Linked DNA regions of Homo sapiens. The protein of the gene in region 2 purifies or fractionates together with the protein of the main gene of each other region. This does not show direct contact. Each region holds a gene or a part of one and is shown on either strand. Other genes may lie near its edges.

Region 1 (3,071 bases), on a different chromosome or scaffold from region 2:
GGCCACATGTCTCCTTCTGAATGAGCACCTGCAGATGGGAGCCCAGGAATGGTTAAGCCACTGCACAAGGAGAGTCACCATCATCGCAACATGCCAGCCCATTCTTCCCTAAGGAGAACGCCCAGTCACTAAGGTTAGAACATACTAGATATAGATATTGGGTATATCTCCTTCTTCTTTGGGGCACCCCCCAAAAAATGGACGCTTTTCTCCTTTCGGGTCTTCAGGTTGAGGATACAAATTGATCAGTCCATGTGGGTGAGTTAGGAAGGGTTTGGATAAAATGCTTCCTTTCCCCTTGCCCTGTATGCCTCTGGCTATTTTAAGGGCTATCTGAAAGGGAAGTAGAGATGGCATGTTTCTCTATCAGGATTCCCGAGTCCTAACAGTCCAAGCACACACGCAGTTGAAGTACAATCAGCCAAAGCAATACACATGCTTTCGAAATTTCCTATAGTGCTTCACCCCTACAGGAAAGGAATTCACAGAAACACCAAGCCTTGAGTCAATATGATTTATTGTTTTCTCTTCTGCCATTAACATTCTAGCTACTGGGTAAGTTGTTCTCCATCCTTGGGATCTCATGGTTGGGAGGAGAGGTCTGGGTTCCCTCCCACAAAACTCTCAACGATAGAATAGAAGCACAGCTGCCTCAGTTATCTCACGGCTGCTGCTGTAACCAACATGAGTTCCATATCCACTCCAATCAAAACCAGAAAAATCTCCACACTGCTGGGGACTGGCCTCTGGAAAGTATCCTCCTCCACCAATGCAGTGCTGGGAAACAAAGAGAGGAAGAGGCAGTAATGAGAGATCTGCCAGTGAGGCCAATGCCATCTTAACAGCTGAATCCAGTGATTTCTTTGGTCCTCATCAGACTCTCCATTGACAGTGTTGATCTATTCTTCCCATAAAAACCTCTCTTCCTTGGCTCACACCTGTAATCCCAGCAGTCTGGGAGGCCGAAGAGGGTGGATCACTTGAGGCCAGGGGTTCGAGACCAGCCTGGCCAACATGGTGAAACCACATCTCTACAAAAAATACAAAAATTAGCCAGGTATGGTGGCAAGCACCTGTAGTCCCACTACTCAGGAGGCTGAGGCAGGAGAATTGCTTGAACCTGGAAGGTGGAGGTTGCGGTGAGCTTAGATCACGCCATTGTACTGCAGCCTGGGTGACAGAGTAAGACCCTGTCTCAAAAGAAAAAAAAAAAAACTCTCTTCCTTTAGCTTTAGTGACATTATTGTCTTGACTTCCTTTCAACTTTTCTGAATATTCATGCTCAGAGCCCCTGCCTGTTCTCTTCTTTCATAAATCCTCTAAGTGCTGCTCCCTAGTGGAGGACCTATCTCCCTCTCCCTTATAAACTGCATGACCACTGTGGCCTCAATTACTAAAAATTCACTGATGGCCCCAAAATCTCCATCTCCTGTTGAGATGCTTCTTGTGCTGAAGACCTCAAAGTCCAGCTTGGATCTCTACACAGGAACCTCAAGCTCCAAATGACCAAAATAGAGTTAATTATATCCCTCATTGACCCAGAACCTATTCATCATCCAGACACTCTGACTTCATAAATGACACTCCCTCACCCAAATGAGAACCATGTTATTCTATACTTCCTTGCCCATCCTCTGTATTCAACTGGTGACATGGTTTGGACCTGGGTCCCCACAAAATCTCATGTCGAATTGTAATCCCCAGTGTTGGGGGTGGGGCCTTGTGGGAGGTGATTGGATCATGGGGGTGGTTTCACATGAATGATTTTACCACCAGCTCCTTGATGCCGTCCTCATGATAGTGAGTGACTTCTCATGAGATCTGGACATTTAAAAGTATGCAGCACCAGCCAGGCATGGAGGTTCATGCCTGTAATCCTAGCACTATGGGAAGCTGAGGCGGGTAGATCACTTGAGGTCAGGAGTTCAAGACCAGCCTGACCAACATGGAGAAACCCCATCTCTACTAAAACTACAAAATTAGCCCAGTGTGGTGGCTTATGCCTGTAAACCCAGCTACTTGGGAGGCTGAGGCAGGATAATCGCTTAAACCTGAGAGGCAGAAGTTGTGGCGAGCCTAGATCGTGCCACTGCACTTCAGCCTGGGCAACAAGAGCAAAACTCTGTCTCAAAAAAAAAAAGTGTGTAACGCCTCCCCTGCCTTTGCTCCTGCTCCTGCCATGGGAGACACCTCACTCCTTTTTTGCCTTCTGCCATGATTGGAAGTTTCCTGAGGCTTTCCCAGAAGCCGAAGCCGCTATACTTACGGTACAGCCTGCAGAACCATGAGCCAATTAAACCTCGTTTCTTTATAAATTACCCAGTCTCAGATATTTCTTTTTCTTTCTTTTTTTTTTTTTTTATTGAGACAGGGTCTCACTCTGTCACCCAGGTTGGAGTGCAGTGGTGTGATCTTGGCTCACTGCAACCTCCACCTCCCAGGCTTAAGCAGATCCTCCCACCTCAGCCTCCCAAGTAGCTGAGACCACAGGCATGCACCACCACACTCGGCTAATTTTTGTATTTTTTGTAAAGACAAGTTTTGCCATTTTTCCCAGGCTGGTCTCAAACTCCTGAACTCAAGAGATCCACCTGCCTTGCCTCGCAAAATACTGGGATTACAGGCGGGAGCCACCATGCCTGGCCAGTATTTCTTTATAGCAGTGAAAGAATGGACTAATTACAACTGGTATTCTATTTAAAATCTTTGGAATTTGTCAATCCCACCATTCAGGATTCCTGAGCCTTAACATTTCAACCACAAAAAGGATGGCCTGAGTGAGGTTTCTAGAAGGTGATGTCCAGGACTGTCCCAGCAACTCCCCAGTGCAGTGTGTATCTAGGCAAACCATGGCTAGGGTTGGGGAGGTCCAGGTTTTCTCTGAAATATAAACCTCAGATGAAGGAAAACAACACCTGTGTTTCTCAAGGAATCTCAGCTCTAAAGACTTCTACACAATGTTTCAGCACACAAGCCTCACCCCAGCTCCAAGCGATTGAGTGTTTTCTCACAAAGGCTGAACACCCAGTAATGGTTCTTTTGAAGCCTCACCCCTTGATTTTGGTCTTCAA
Region 2 (2,373 bases):
ATATATGTATAAATGCTTATATGTAAAGAATATGTATTCACCTGGATCTTTACTTACCTTTGAATGATTTTGACTGCTTTCTGCCAAAACAATAGCAACCATCAAAAATTCATCTTTAAAAAGAAACTAGTCCCGTGAACTAAATCGGGCCTCTGATTTTGTGTATTGAATTTATGAAACACAATCTTATTTATACACTTACATATTGTCTATGGCTGCTGTTGCACTACCATGGCAGAGGTGAGTAGTCCCCACCTAGACCATATATTTTGCAAAGCCAAAAATATTTTATACCTGTCTTTAATGGAAAAAGTTTGCTGACCTTCCTTAAAGGAGTAAGATTTGATGCCATTAGGAATATTCCAAAGAATATGCCACAATGATCAAAAGAATTCAAAGACTAGTTGCATATTAGGCATTAGTTGCTTCACTAGGATCCATACGGAGATTACTCAAAATGATTACTTTGAAGCAGATAATGTTAATTTAGAATAATGGATTTTCATACAGTTGTGTTTGTCTTATTTCTTATCTCACTGGTACCAGAGCAAAGACTAATAAGTCAAGTATGTAAAGGGTGGAGCTGTGTTTAGTATATATGTCTCACCTTCTGGTTTAGCACTTTTCTTAGAGTTATCTATTTAATTAAATAGTCTACTTTTGGGCTATTACATAATATTTCTTTACCTCAGTTTTCTCTTAGGCAATAAGGGTATAATACTCGTGTCTACCTCTATAAAAGCAAGGCTAAATGAGCATAAAGTACTTAAAACAAGGCCTGGCACAGGAATTATGCATCAAGGTTTACTATTATTATTACAATATGTCAAGAGCTGTACTAATGATAGGAACATGCATGCATCTACTTTTATTTACAATATTATTTTTCAATCCATCCTCTTTTCATAGTTAAATAATGATTTAAACATTATTATTATTAATTATAATATAGAAGTTATTAAATGAAAAGTATCATGGAGTTAGAGCCCTTTGCAGTTTATAAGTTTGGGTTGATGTCAGATAAGTCTGCGGGACTTGATCAATCAGAGTTAAAATTGGTAAAATACAGTTACCCTAGGAATTTCCTCCATTGTGAATACTTGTAATGAATGATGGCTATTTTCTTGGTGAACTGCCCCTAGTGTATTCAGTACAAAGTCAAAGGTAACTATCTTTCTGCCTAGAAATGGTCAACCAAACTGACTTGACACATCTATTATTTGTACTAGCTCCAATTTATTTGTACGATTGCCACTGTCTATATTGTGCTCCCAGTAATAGAGTCTTCACAGTTGCTTTCGTAGAAAACTCATTATCTTCTTCCTACAAATTTTGCTGTTGATCTTAAACTTGTTATTAAAACCACAAGGCATTTGGTAAACATAATTAAGCCAATGTGTTCAGGAAGTTTTGAAAACCAAATATGTGTTATATCAGTTTTCAATTTTTTTCAAAGCATGTTTACATATAATATCAAGTGATTGGATGCTGGGGAGGACAGGCATTTTTATCTTTTGACAAATTAAGAAGCTGAGAGAACTGAATTAAAAATGCCAGCAAAAATCCTATAGTTTTTACAGAACTGCTCTCTAAGATATCAGAGTTTACTGTTTAATTTTGTAAAACCAATACACTTACTGCTTAGTTTTTATAGCCAGAGTTGAGATTTCCTATGTTTTTAAGAATCACTCAAATAGACTTCACCTCTTTCTACATGTTCTTTCTACCTGTTTCTTCTCTTTCCTTTACCTCATTCCTTTCTCTTCTATGGGAGTGGCCAGAAGGACTGAATTTGAGTCACAGTTCTGCCATCTACTTACTATGTTGCTTAATCTCTAAGTGCCTTTGTTCCCTCATTGGTAGAGTGGTCAGAATGATAGTGAACCTTCATAGAGTGGTAAGGAAGAATAAATGAGATTAAGGATGTCAAGTGTTAGCACAGAGCATGGCTCCTGGGAAATGCTCAATGAATGAGTCATTACTATTATCATGTCTTTCCATGAAAATCTGTGAATGAAATACTTCCTTTTTTATTACTGAAAATAAGTCACAGAATATTTACACTTAGAACATGAAACATAGGGAAATGGCATTTCTGAAAAATCATAAAATAAAAGAATCCTGGGAGACTGGAGGGAGAAGAGAGCAGAGCCTGTAAGACCCTGCTTCTTGTTCACCTCTCTGCAGCCCTCCTATTTCTCCCCAGCTCAGAGCACTCATACATAATCACTGCTGGAATGCCAGTATTTCTATTTTCCCAGAAATAAGAAAGAGGGAAGATTATCCCTGAAACTGCAGAAGAAATGGGATCAGAGAGATTGTATAGTTGAAGGGCAGCATTATCAAGCGATCAGCCCCAGGGAGAAGCTAAGC

What was found. Proteins that work in one complex are often made in the same cells at the same time.
Region 1: the proteins of TMEM207 (region 2) and ITLN1 purify together in Homo sapiens (co-immunoprecipitation; one study listed by IntAct). This does not show direct contact.

Annotation. Positions count from the first base shown.
Region 1 is NC_000001.11:160,876,040-160,879,110, forward strand, and holds the end of ITLN1 (intelectin-1 precursor), read right to left. Parts: intron 778-3,071; coding exon 625-777; 3' UTR 501-624; downstream 1-500. UniProt on the Homo sapiens protein: Lectin that specifically recognizes microbial carbohydrate chains in a calcium-dependent manner.
Region 2 is NC_000003.12:190,430,529-190,432,901, forward strand, and holds part of TMEM207 (transmembrane protein 207 precursor), read right to left. Parts: intron 1-2,373.